Linked DNA regions of Homo sapiens. The protein of the gene in region 2 interacts with the protein of the main gene of each other region in a pairwise test. Each region holds a gene or a part of one and is shown on either strand. Other genes may lie near its edges. The genes, in order: TPM3 and TNNT1.

Evidence for each region.
Region 1: the proteins of TNNT1 (region 2) and TPM3 interact in binary tests that used the Homo sapiens proteins (3 or more experiments, as listed by UniProt).

Annotation. Positions count from the first base shown.
Region 1 is NC_000001.11:154,161,056-154,168,117, forward strand, and holds the end of TPM3 (tropomyosin alpha-3 chain), read right to left. Parts: intron 6,886-7,062; coding exon 6,882-6,885; 3' UTR 758-6,881; downstream 1-757. UniProt on the Homo sapiens protein: Binds to actin filaments in muscle and non-muscle cells. Plays a central role, in association with the troponin complex, in the calcium dependent regulation of vertebrate striated muscle contraction.
Region 2 is NC_000019.10:55,138,971-55,146,244, forward strand, and holds part of TNNT1 (troponin T, slow skeletal muscle), read right to left. Parts: intron 6,596-7,274; coding exon 6,574-6,595; intron 2,951-6,573; coding exon 2,887-2,950; intron 2,333-2,886; coding exon 2,216-2,332; intron 1,991-2,215; coding exon 1,913-1,990; intron 1-1,912. UniProt on the Homo sapiens protein: Troponin T is the tropomyosin-binding subunit of troponin, the thin filament regulatory complex which confers calcium-sensitivity to striated muscle actomyosin ATPase activity.

The DNA.
Region 1 (7,062 bases), on a different chromosome or scaffold from region 2:
GTGCATCACCATGCCTGGTATAAATTTCTGATTTTCGAATTTGGGATGCTCAACTGGAAAGTATAATGCAAATATTAAAAAAAAAAAAAAAAAAAAAAAGCAAAAATCCAAAACACTTCTGCTCCCAAGCATTTTGAATAAGGAATACTCAAAACTATACTAATGGTATATAAGCTTCATGAGGCCTGAGATTGGACCTGTCTTATTCACTGGGGCGTCCTTGTCAAAATAACAGGTGTTGAAATTTGTGAACTAATCTCTCAAATTTCCTGTGATGTTACATTACATATAGATCTCGTGAACAGCCTGAATTTAGATAATACCTATAACCAAGTTAGTTTGTGTGATTCTCACTTGGGAAAGAAGGATGTTATCAGGATCCTTTTTTTTTTTTTTTTTTTTTGAGTTTCACTCTTGTTGCCCAGGTTGGAGTGCAATGGTACGATTTTGGTTCACTGCAACCTCCACCTCCCAGGTTCAAGCGATTCTCTCGCCTCAGCCTCCTGAGTAGCTGGGATTACAGGCACCCACCACCACGCCCAGGTAATTTTTGCATTTTTTTTTTTTAGTAGAGATGGGGTTTCACCATATTGGCCAGGCTGGTCTTGAACTCCTGACCTCAGGTGATCTGCCCGCCTCCCAAAGTGCTGGGATTACAGGCATGAGCCACCGCACCCAGCCGCGTTATCAGGATCTTTATCCCTCAAAGCAGCCTGGTCAATTCTTTTCCATTTAGGGAAGAAATAAAGAGACAGAGAAGGAGTGAGAGCATTTTATTGCCTGACTAAATCACAGAACACAGAGTTTCCTAGGAATTGCATGAGGTCAGAAAGACAAATGCAGCTGTTCTCTCACTTTGAACTTAGTTTCTAACTCTGCTATCTCTAGTTATTAAAAATTAAGACCAGTACTAGCTCCTTAAAGTTTTTGGTTCCCTGATAATAGCTAAAACAAAACAAACGAAAAGGCAAGGCAGAGAACCTATTTGGTCTAGCGTTCTTTTCAGCTATATCTAATTAAGAAACAACCCCATGGCCAGGTGCAGTGGCTCAAGTCTGTAACCCCAGCACTTTGGAAGGCCGAGGCGGGCAGATCACGAGGTCAGGAGTTTGAGATCAGCCTAACATGTTGAAACCTAGTCTCTACTAAAAACACAAAAATTAGCCGGGCTTGGTTGCACGTGCCTGTAATCCCAGCTATTCAGGAGGCTGAGGCAGGAGGATCACTTAAACCCAGGAGGCGGAGCTTGCAGTGAGCCAAGATCACACCACCGCACTCCAGCCTGGGCAACAGAGCAAGACTCCGTCTCAAAAAAAAAAAAAAAAAAAAACACAAACCAACCCCATGGAGTTGGATAGTATTCAACCAACACCATGTGAAAGGAAGAGATTTGGTTGGGGCTAAGATAAAGCTGCCAAACAGAATAGGTCTAAGATAAAGCTGCCAAACAGAATAGGTCAGTTGTACCTATCAGATAACTTGGGGTTACTACATCTTATTCCTTATCTCAATGATGGTAACAAGGAAGGGCAAAATGGGCCTGTGGTTCTTAGAAATTAAGAGGGGGTAACATTAAGGGGACAAATGTTTTACTCTGATGCTTGACTTCACCCCAATACTAGTCCAGGCTCAAGTAACACAGGATGGCTTCTGCAAGGATATTAAGCCTTAAACAAAGGAATGAATTTAGCATTAGCACTAATTACATAGTACTTCATTGTCCACTTTGGTACCCCAGTTTGTTGGTCTCTATCCTTGGCTCACACTAGTCATACCGCAAGGAAAACAGGAGATACCACAGATCAGAGCTATAACACCTTACTTTTCTCCCAATCTCCCTCTTATTTCCTTCTTTTTTTTCTCTCCTGCCTCAGCCTCTCGAGTAGTTGGGACTACAGGCATGTGCCACCATGTCCAGCTAATTTTTGTATTTTTAGTAGAGACAGGTTTTCACCACGTTGGCCAGGATGGTCTTGATCTCTTGACCTTGTGATCCACCTGCCTCGGCTTCCCAAAGTGTTGGGATTACAGGCATGAGCCACCATGCCCGGTCTACTTCCTTCCTTTCTAAGAAGTCTTTCTTCATGTCAAAGCCAACTTCTGCCCAGGATCTGAATATTTAGAAATGCATTGTCCAATATAATAGCCACTAGCCACAGGTAGCCAAATTTAAATGAACTACAATGAAATACAATTAAATTTTAGCCCCTCAGCCACACTAGCCATGTTTTGAGTGCTTGACTGCCACATGTGGCTAATGTACTAGACATCATTACCAAAAGTTCTGTTGGAAAGCCCTGCTCTAAAGTAAATTATATTGCCTATATAATCTTCCTACCAATACACTCTTTTGCCCCTGAAAATGACTCCTCCTCTTCACTTCTTAACACTCAAAATGTACCCTCAAATTACTAAAGTATCAATGCATGTCCCATTTTCAGTTATCTTCCTTCTTAGCCTCTCTGTTGAAAAACCACTAGAAAGCATCCAACCCGGAACTTTTTAAAGAACTACTCAACCGTCTTCTTTCCCTCCAATCAGTTCCATTTGGTTCCTCCTCTTACATAACGTTTTCCTCATTGTTTAATTTTTTTTTGAGACAGAGTCTTGCTCTGTCACCCAGGCTGGAATGCCGTGGCACAATCTCAGCTCACTACAAGCTCCGCCTCCCGGGTTCACGCCATTCTCCTGCCTCAGCCTCCCAAGTAGTTGGGACTACAGGTGCCCGCAACCACGCCCAGCTAATTTTTTGTATTTTTAGTAGAGACGGGGTTTCAACGTGTCAGCCAGGATGGTCTTGATCTCCTGACCTCGTGATCCGCCCACCTCGGCCTCCCAAAGTGCTGGGATTACAGGCGTGAGCCACCGTGCCTGGCCTCTTTTTTTTGTATTTGCAATTGTCCTTCATGGTTCTAATTTACCTCCATGGCATAAACTACCTGTACCCCATATGGATTCCCAACTCTCTTATGTCAACCTCTCTGCCTCACGCCCTAGAATTTTGTTTTCACCCAGATACCTGCCAGATTGTCAGCCGTATCTTCTTTCCCTTCCCCCAGCTCCCCAAACCAGGACAACATGATCTCCCTACATCTTTAACCCCACCACTTTCCTACTCTTTTTTTGGGGGGGGTCTCATTCTGCCACCCAGGATGGAGTGCAGCAGTGTGATCACAGCTTGCTGCAGCCTCAGACTCCTGGGCTCAAAGGATCCTCTGGCTTCGGCCCTCCAAGTAGATAGGACTGCAGGCACGCACCACCATGTTTGGCTAAGTTTTTATATTTTGTAGAGACAGGTTCTCACTTTATTGCCAGGCTGGTCTCGAACTCCTGGATTCAAGAAATCCTCTCACCTCAGCCTCCTAAAGTGCAGGGATTACAGGCATGAGCCACTGCACCCGGCTAATTCTCCTACTCTAAAAACCAGTCATCCTTGTCTTTCCTCCTCACATCAAGTGGCCAGGCCTTTCACAATGCCTGTCTTTATTTAGTGCTATCTCTCCTGCCACTACTCTAGCTCAGACCCTGATTATTCTCTCCTAGAAAACTAAATTAACCTAACCCAATTTTTTCCAAAGTGTGGTGTATTCACTGCTATAGTTACTTTAATGTGATTAGGAAAAAACACTAACACATCAAAACTTTGATTTCAAAATAGAATTGTGTCAAGTAAGAACAAAATAAATCTGGAAATGAGTAGATCTGAAGAAAACAATGTAGGCAGCAATGAATATGGAAAAAGCCATCAAAAATGGTAACATAAATGGCTGAAATGTGAGAAACACCATGTTAGTGAATCACTTTGCTAATCTGCAAATTAGTTACCAAATTAATTCTTCTTATATGTTATTCAGATCACAACATATCCTATTCAAAATCTCCAGTGGCATCCCCATTAACTCCAAGTAAAATTATAACTCCTCAGCCTCATTTTAAGACACAACCTGTTCCCTACTCTGTCTAAATCTACCTTTAGAGCTATTGTGGCCTTCTCATCTCTATCAATGCCTTTATTATTTTGTTTCTCTTTAAATGGAATGCTCAGGCCAGGTGCAGTGGCTCACGCCTGTAATCCCAACACTTTGGGAGGCAGAGGCGGGTGGATCACTTGAGGTCAGGAGTTCGCGACCAGCCTGGCCAACATGCTGAAACCCCGTCCGTACTAAAAATACAAAAATCAGCTGGGCATGGTGGTGGGTATCTGTAATCACAGCTCCTCGGGAAGCTGAGACAGGAGAATCGCTTGAACTCAAGAAGCAGAGGTTGCAGTGAGCCATGATCTCACCACTGCACTCCATCCAGCCTGGGTGACAGAGCGAGACTCCATCTCAAAAAGAGAAAAATAAATAAATAATGGAATGCTCAATATTCACTATCCCACAACCCAACTCTGCTTGTCAAAAATCCACTTTTGGAACCCAATAAAAATGAATATGCAAGTTTAACATGTTGGCTGGGCGCAGTGGCTCAAGCCTGTAATCCCATCACTTTGGGAGGCTGAGGTGGGTGGATCACTTGAGGTCAGGAGTTCCAGACCAGCCTGGCCAACATGGTGAAACCTCACCTCTACTAATAATACAAAAATTAGCTGGGTGTGGTGGCAGGCGCCTGTGATCTCAGCTACTCGGGAGGCTGAGGTGGGAGAACTGCTTGAACCCAGGAGGCAGAGGTTGCAGTGAGCTGAGATCAGGCCACTGAACTCCAGCCTAGGTGACAAGAGTCAAACTCCGTCTCAAAAAAAAAAAAAAAAAGAAAAAAAGAAAAAAGTTTTAACATGTTTATGAAGTACCCATTACATGCCTTCTTCCATGAGTTTTTCCAATTCATTCCCACTAGGATCAATCTCGTCCCCTCTACTCAATTCCCATAACACTATTATTTGTGGCATTCATCACACAGTATCTGTAGCTTTATGTATGTTTTCTCTCCTAGTAGATTCTAAGCAACTTGAGAGTAGGAATGGTGCCTCCATCTTTATTTCTGTCTCCATCTTAATATCCTATACCTAGAAGATACCAGGAAGTGTCAGCTGAATAAATGAATCTGAACCTTAATCTCAAAGGCTATGCGGCAGTAAGAAATGGAATGGACAAAAGGAAACGTGAATTTGATATGACTTAAAGTTTTAGATTAAGGAAAACTTCCCTACCTGATTATATCTGTTTAAAAGAAGAGCAAAAGTGTTTTTAACAGATGGAATCTTGCTGTGTTGCCCAGGCTGGAGTACTACAGTGGCTATTTATAGGTGCAATCCCACTACTGATCAGCACAGGAATTTTGACCTGCTCCATTTCCGACCTGGGCCAGTTCACCCCTTCTTAGGCAACCTTGTTGTTCTCCACTCCCAGGAGGTCACCATACTGATGCCAAATTTAGTGAGGACATCTGACCTGCATAGCACACTACAGTGCAGAACTCCTGGGCTCAAGCAATCCTCCTGCCTCAGCCTCCCAAGAAGCTACAGGCAGTACAGGCAAGTGCCATTGCACCCAGCTAAAAGAAAAGCAAATTTTAAATACATACCCTGCTGGGAAACTAAAGTACTAAGTGAACAACACTTACGTGCTTGGATTAGTATAATTCACAGCTATACTATTAAGAAATCTCTGCTGTGTAAATTGGAATGCGAATTCCTTTTTTTTTTTTGAGATGGAGTCTCTCTGTTGCCCAGGCTGGAATGCAGTGGCGCGATCTCCGCTCACTGCAACCTCCGCCTCCCAGGTGCAAGCGATTCTCCTGCCTCAGCCTCCCGAGTAGCTGGGATTACAGGCACCCACCCACCATGCCCAGCTAATTTTTGTATTTTTAGTAGAGACGGGGTTTCACCATGTTGGCCGAGCTGGTCTCGAACTCATGACCTCAGGTGATCCACCTGCCCCAGCCTCCCAAAGTGCTGGGATTATAGGCGTGAGCTACCACGCCCGGCCTATAATGGGAATTTCTAAAATGTTGATATTTAATTCCACAATATGAACCAAGGAAAATTTTACTAGCAGAAATTTATGTATGTAATAAATCATTAGCCTCATATGCACATTATTTGAAATATGCATGATTGGTCATTTTAGTTTTCCCAATAATAATTTATCACTTATCTTATATCCCACTAGTCACACACTAGCAGGCAAATGGTAGCAAGTCTCAAATATGTAAGAAAGGTTTAAAGAAGAAAAAGTAAAAAAACCGTCCAGAATTCTATCCATTGTGTATTTTTCTGTGACTGGAGTTGACATAATTAGTCAATCTTAGCAATAATGTATTGGGTTCACTGGGTGTTCTGAGGATGCACCATTTGAACCACCGGTAAAAGGGTACAGAATGTGTATTGAGAGTCACTTCAATGGCTTCTCAATGACACCACACCAAAGGAGGAATACCTGAAGAGAGAATGGAAACACTGCAGGCAGGATGATTTAAGAACCTGGAAATAAGGAATTTAATCTTGTTCAGCTTGAGGAGTATAACTAAAATTACTATCCTGAGTAACCTGTACTAAATCCATCACTCTGGTAGAATCAGATCAGCTGAGTTTAAATGTCAAGAAAAAATAGACACACACAAAAGTGGCTTTGATTACATAAGTCAGAGGAGGGGGAGCCTACAATAGCTCTTCCCCACATCACACCCCCAAGGCTCCTTCTTAGGGACAGCAACAGCTTTGTCAATGACACAAATGCAGGGTGGCATGAGGTTTCCAGCAGCTTAACATTTTAATTTGGGGTGGGGGTGGAAGAAAATACATAAGTTGCTTTTTGCTCCCCCATCCTAATGCCTTGGGGACCAGCCAGGCTGACCCAAATGGAATCCAGAGCGAGAGTGGGGCCTTGGGTTCCCCGAGGAGTAAAGGGGGCAGATCCAGAACAGAGCAGAAACGGTGATAATTATCTGTATGAAAAAGTAAGGATACTCTAGGTGAGAAGGACTAGCATCAATCTAGATAGCAAACTGGGAAAAAGGAAGAGGAAAAAAAGGAAGAGGTGGCAGCAGGAATAATAAAAGAGAGCCAGACACTTCAGCCTGAGAAATGTGGCTTCTTTTCAGGGTTAGTGGGAAAGATACAAA
Region 2 (7,274 bases):
CACCCAGCACTCCGTACCTGAATTAGTTTCCTTTCTGTTTTTGAGATGGAGTCTCGCTCTGTCACTCAGGCTGGAGTGCAGTGGTGCAATCTCTGCTCTGTTCACTGCAACCCCCACCTCCTGGGTTCAAGTGATTCTCCTGCCTCGGCCTCCCAAGTAACTGGGATTACAGACATGTGCCACCATTACCAGCTAATTTTTGTATTTTTAGTACAAACAGGGTTTCACCATGTTGGCCAGGCTGGTCTCAAACTCCTGGCCTCAGGTGATCCACTTGTCTCGGTCTCCCAAAGTGCTGGGATTACAGGCGTCAGCCATCGCGCCTAAACTTAGTTTCCTATCACTGCTGTAATTTGCAAATTTAGTGGCAGAAAAACAATGCAGATTTGTTATCTTACAGCTCTGCAGATCAGACATCTGAAATTGGTCCCCCTGGGCTGGAATCAAGTTGTGAACAGAACCAATTTATTCTGGAGGTTCTAGGGGAGAATTCATTCCCTTCCCTTTTCCAGCTGCTGCCTGCATGTCTGGGCCCATGGACCTTCTTTCATCTTCAGAGGCAGCCATGCAGCATCTTCAAATCTCTCAGTCTGACCCTCTGGCCTTCCTCTTATAAGGACCCTTGTGATGATCTTGCCCTTCCCCACAGGTAATCCAGGACAACCTTCCCATCTCAAGATCTTTAATTTAATCACATCTGCAAAATCCCCTTCACAGCTGGGTGACGGGCAGGTGGCTGTAATCCCAGCTACTCGGGAGGCTGAGGCAGGAGGATCACTTGAGCCCAGGAGTTTGGGAACAACGTGGGCAACATAGAAAGACCCTATCTCAAATAAAAAAAAATAATAATAATAGTAATAATGATGACAATGGCCAGGCATGGTGGCTCATGCCTGTAATCCTAGCACTTTGGGAGGCCAAGGGGGTGAATCACCTGAGGTCAGGAGTTCAAGACCAGCCTGAACCAACATGGAGAAACCCCATTTCTACTAAAAATACAAAAATTAGCCGAGCCTGGTGGCAGGTGCCTGTAATCCCAGCTACTCAGGAGGCTGAGGCAGGGGAATTGCTTGAACCAGGAGGCGGAGGTTGCAGTGAGCTGAGATCGCGTCACTGCACTCCAGCCTGGGTGACAGAGCGAGACTGTCTCAGAAAAAAAAAAAATTAAAATTAAAAAAAAAGGGAAAAGAAGAAAATGGAGAATCCAGGCCGGGCACGATGGCTCATGCCTGTCATCCCAGCACTTTGGGAGGTGAAAGCAGGTGGATTGCTTGAGCTTAGGAGTTGAAGACCAGCCTGGACAACATGGCAAAATGCTGTCTCTACAAAAAATAAAAAAATAAAAAAAACTAGTGGGGCAGAGTGGCGCAGCCTATATAGTTCCAGCGACTCTGGAGGCTGAGGTGGGAAAATCATTTGAGCCCAGGAGGTCCTAGTTATAGTGAGCTAGGATCACACCACTGCACTTCAGCCTGGGTGACAGAGCAAGACCCTATTTCCAAATAAACGAATAAAAAATAATAATAGGCCGGATGCGGTGGCTCACACCTGTAATCCCAGCACTTTGGAAGGCTGAGGTGGGCGGATCATGTGGTCAGAAGATCAAGACCATCCTGGCCAACATGGTGACACCCCATCTCTACTAAAAATACAAAATTTAGCCGGGCGTGGTGGTGCGCACCTGTAGTCCCAGCTACTGGGGAGGCTGAGGCAGAAGATTCGCTTGAACCTGGAAGGCAGAGGTTACAGTGAGCTGAGATCGTGCCACTGCACTCCAGCCTGGGCGACAGAGCTAGACTCCGTTTCAAAGAATAATAATAATAGTAATAATAATAATAATAATAATAATAACAAAATGGGCATCCGGCTGAAGAAGTAACATTTGGGCTCTCAGGGCAGGGGAGGCACCCACCGCCAGCTTAGCCTGACGTTCGCGTTCCTTCTCAGTTCTGAAGCGCTGTTGCTCGGCTCTCTCTGACCGGCGCCGCTCCTGGGAAACGGAGAAGCATAAGGGGGTGCAGGGACGTACCCCCAGTCTTCCTTCCCCAGAGTAGGCTAATAAACAGATTGGAGTGTGGCCACCGACTTGGGTGAATTCGCGAAAGCCTAAGGCTCAGCTCTGTACTAGGAGGAAAACTATTATCTGCATCTCCCAAGATGCAAGGGATCCACATGGAGGGAGGAAGACCGGGGGGAACCCGGACTCTCGGCTCACAATGCGCTCCTTCAAGGCAACCAGCTCCTCTTCCTCCTTCTTCCGCTGCTCGAAATGTACATCGATGAGTGTCTGCAGCTCCAGCAGGTCTTTCTCCATGCGCTTGCGGTGGATGTCCTGCAGGACACACGGGCAGCCCGTCCTAGGAGACCCTGGAGGGGGCAGCAGCCTCCCAGCACCTCCCCCATGCAGGATGGTGAACTGAACCGTTTCCCAGGACGGTATCCAGCAGGTGGCAGCAATGCCTCGTGTTTGACACTAATCAGCTCTTCCAAGGACAGGCTTCCCAAAGACGGGAGTGGGGAGTGGGGACCGGCGCCTTTTTTTTTTTTTTTCCTCCCAGGCTGGAGTGAAATGGCGCGATCTCGGCTCACCGCCACCTCCGCCTCCCAGGTTCAAGCGATTTTCCTGCCTCAGCCTCCCGAGTAGCTGGGATTACAGACACCTGCCACCACGCCCGGCTAATTTTTGTATTTTTAGTAGAGACGGGGTTTCACCATATTAACCAGGCTGGTCTCGAACTCCTGACCTCAGGTGGGTCACCTCAGCCTCCCAAAGTGCTGGGATTACAGGCATGAGGCCCCGCGCCCGGCCGGCGCCTTTTCATGATTGACACAAAGGCCCCTTAAAGACTAGCAACTGCGCCTGCGGAGGGGTCTCTTGTCACTTACATCGAAGTCAACGCGCTCCCCTTCTGGGATCTTTGGCGGGATCAAAGGAGGCACCACGGGGCGGCTGAGTGGACAGAAACACAGAGACCATGAGTGGCCCGACCTCCCTGAGCCACCTCCCACCTCCGGGATGTGCCGTCCAGTGAGGTAGCCGCCAGCCCCGGGAGGCTCCTGAACGTGGAGGGTCCCAGCTGAGGCGGGCTGTCAGTGAAACACACAAAAGAAGGTAAAATACCTCACTACTCATGTTTTTTTGGTTGTTGTTGGTTTTGTTTTGTTTTTTTGACGGAGTCTTGCTCTGTCACCCAGGCTGGAGTGCGGTGGCGCCACCTCGGCTCACTGCAAGCTCCGCCTCCTGGGTTCACGCCATTCTCCTGCCTCAGCCTCCCGAGTAGCTGGGACTACAGGCGCCCACCACCAAGCCTGGCTAATTTTTCTGTATTTTTAGTAGAGACGGGGCTTCACTGTGTTAGCCAGGATGGTCTCGATCTCCTGACCTCGTGATCCGCCCGCCTCGGCCTCCCAAAGTGCTGGGATCACAGGTGTGAGCCACCGCGCCCGGCACTAATCATGTTTTATACTGATTACATGTTGAAATGATAAAACATTATATAACAGATTAAAAAAACTGTGCTATGAAAATTAATTTTTCCTATATTGTTGTACTTTAAAAAATATGCCTAGTAAGAATTTTTTTTTTTTTTTTGAGACAGAGCCTCACTCTGTCACCCAGGCTGGAATGCAGTGGCGCCATCTCTGCTCACCACAACAACCTCCACCTCCCAGATTCAAGCGATTCTCCTGCCTCAGCTTCCCGAGTAGTTGGGATTACAGGCGCCTGCCACCACGCCTGGGTAATTTTTGTATTTTTAGTAGAGACGGGGTTTCACCATGCCGGCCAAGCTGGTCTTGAACTCCCGACCTCAGGCGATCTGCCTGCCTCAGCCTCCCAAAGTGCTGGGATTACAGGCAGGAGCCCCTGCGCCCAGCCATTTTTAAATTTTTTGTAGAGATGGCGTTTCACAGCCTGGGCGCGGTGGCTCACGCCTGTAATCCTAGCACTTTGGGAGGCCAAGGTGGGCGAATCACTTGAGGTCAGGAGTTCAAAACCAGCTTGGGCATCATGGTGAAACCCCATCTCTACTAGAAATTAAAAAAAAAAATTAGCTGGGCATGGTGGTACGTGCCTGTAATCCCTGCTACTCAGGAGGCTGAGGCAGGAGAATCGCTTGAACCCCGGAGGCAGAGATTGCAGTGAGCCGAGATCGTGCCATCGCACTCCAGCCTGGGTGACAGAGGGAGACTCTATCTCAAAAAAAAAAAAAAAGAGATGGCGTTTCACTATGTTGTCCAGGGTGGTCTTGAACTTCTGAGCTCAAGTGATCCTCCCGCCTCAGCCTCCCAGAGTGCTGGGACTATAGGCGTGAGCCACTGCGCCCAGCCTTTAGTAAGAAATTGTAAGTGACGTGTGTGGCTTGCCATCTATTTCTATTGGGTGGTGCCGCTCTGAGGCTCAGCCCTCAGCCTGCTCTGATTTCCTGCCACTTCCTTGGAATTCTCTTTTCTGGGTTTCTGAGACAGTGAAGAGCGATTCCAAGATGAAGCAGACAGGACTTAGGGGATGCTGGGCAAGGGGAGGGAAGAGGTGAGGACAATCCCCAAGGGTCTCTGGGCCAGGGGGCCAAGTGTACAGCAGGGCCGTCATCTCCATCTTGGAAAAGTCGATAAGCTCCATCAGGGCGTCATGTGTGGGAATAAAATATGGCTTACCATATTGTACAGGAATGAATACCGGCTTGCCTCCCACCCCTCTGGCTGTTCCATCCCTATCTCCTGCCCCGACAGCCCCGTGAGCTGCCAGTGAGCTTTCCTTTTCCCTTTTCTCATCATCAATGCCATTCACTCCAATGACTTCAGGTATCATCAACTGCTGAGGACTCGCCAACTGTCTCTGGTCCAGACTCTCTCCTAAGCCCCAGACTCAAGCTAACAGGTATCTCCTGAACTTTTCCCACCTTCCCACACATGACGTCCTGATGGAGCTCACCAACTTCTCTGAGAAGGAGATGGCAGCCCCACTGTCCACTTTGTTCCCCAGCCCAGAGACCCTTCGGGGTTGTCCCCATTGCTTCCCTCCCCTTGCCCAACAATCCCCAAGTCCTGTCCCTTTGCCTTGGAATCCCTCTCAGTCCATTCCCCCACCCCACCCCACCCCCTTTTTTTTTTTTTGAGATGGAGTTTCACTCTTGTTGCCCAGGCTGCCGTGCAATGACACGATCTTGACTCACTGCAACCTCTGCCTCCCGGTTCAAGCGATTCTCCTGCCTCAGCCTCCCAAATAGCTAGGATTACAGGTGCCCACCACAATACCTGGCTAATTCTTTTGTATTTTTAGTAGAGACAGAGTTTCACCATGTTGACCGGGCTGGTCTCAAACTCCTGACCTTAGGTAATCCGCCCCCCTCAGCCTCCCAAAGTGCTGGAATTACAGGCATGAACCACTGCGCCCGGCCCCATTCCCTTATTTTTATTTATGTTTTAGAGACAGGGTCTTGCTCTGTTGCCCAGGCTGGAGTACAGTGGTGTAATCATAGCTCACTGCAGCCTCCAAATCCTGGGTTCGAACAATCCTCCTTCCTCAGCCTCCTGAGTAGCTGGAATCACAGGTGTGTGCCACTGTGCCCGGCTAATTTTTTAAAATTTTTTGTAGAGATGTGGGGGATCTCATTTTGTTACTTAGGCTGATCTTGAACTCCTATCCTCAAGTGATCCTCCCACCTGCCGCTGCGCAGGCAGAGGGCACAGTGTGTGCAAAGGCTCAGGGGTATGAAAGCACAGGCATGGCTAGAGAACCATGAAACGCTGTGTGTCTGTCAGTGGGGAAGGCAGATGCCGGAAAGGTCCGCTGGAGCCAGATGGGGAAGGCTTTGAATGCAGGCTAGTTGCTTTGACTGCGTCTTAAGAGTAGTGGGGAGTTGAGGAAAGATTCTGAGCAGAGGAGGGGCAGGGTTAGCTCTGGTGTTAGAAAAGTCTCTCTCGAGTCATGGAGGAGGATGAGCCACAAGTTGTAGGCAGGGAGGCCAGAGAGGAGGCTGGGGTGATGGTAAAGGCGCGAGGGGAAGAGGGACCACTGGGTGGAAAGAAGGAAACAGACTGGCTGGGCATGGTGGCTTGCGCCTGTAATCCCAGCACTTTGGGAGGCCAAGGTGGGAGAACTGCTTGAGGATAGGAGTTCAAGACCAGCCTAAGCAACATAGCAAGACCTCATCTCTACAAAAAGAAAAAAAAAAAAAAAAACCAGGTGTGGTGGCACATGCCTGTGGTCCCAGCTACTCAGGAGGCTGAGATGGGAGGATTGCTTGAGCCCAAGATGTTGAGGCAGTGGGCCAGGATTGGGTCACTGCACTCTAGCCTGGGTAACAGGGTGGAGACTATGACCACGATGAAGAAGAAGGGGAAGGAGAAGGAGAAGGGGAAGGGGAAGAAGAGGAAGTGGAGGAGGAGGAGGGAGGAGGAGGGAGAGGAGGGAGGAGGGAAAGGGGGAGGGAGGAGGAGGAGGAGGAGAAATGTCGACTGCTGTTTCAATTTCCTCCCTCCATCTCTGCCTTTCTCACACCTTGTCTCTGGGGGTAGAGGGAATATTTAGGAAGATGTATGACTGGGGCCCCCCACCCTGTAGGATCTCACCTTGGTTTGGGGCGTTCCTCTTCTGTTGGTGGTGGGGGATAAAAAGAGATAATTAGCAAGAGTTTAGAGGAGAGGGGCTAGGCCTGACACACCCTGGGGAGGGACCCCCCAAGCCTCGGCCCCCAGGACCCCAGGGAAGGACTCTGGAGTCCAGTTCTGGAGGAGGGGGGATGGGGAGAAGAAAAGAGGGAAGGAAAGTCAGGGTGGCTGTAAAGGAGGAAGAGGGTCACACGCATCAGATATACATTCAGAACTGGTGTGGGGACCCCCCACCCCCACTGTCTGCACACCCAGGAGTGCAAACCCCCAGACCTTTCTCTATTTATATGCCCAGAGCTCCTGCTCTCCTCCATTAGGACCCAGCAGTGCAGGGGGTCCCAACCTCTGTCTTCATTCAGTGACCCCAGCGCTCTCTCCCCAGCTCGCCCCCTGCCCACCGCCCCACCGCCCCCCCGCCCCCGGCCCGACCTTGGAGACCCTGACTCCCAGCGCTCGCCTCCTCTGCAATCCTAAATTCCAAGCCCCAACCTTTGAATGTATATGGGGGAGAAAATAACAGACAAGGTTGGAGGCGAAGATAAGGGGGGATGGGGTGGTGCTTCTCCGCAAACATCCAACCCTTCTGTAAAGATTCCTCCAGACTGGGGAAGAAGGCTTGGGTGTCGGTCCCTTTAAGAAGGAAGGGAAAGGGTTAAAGCCAC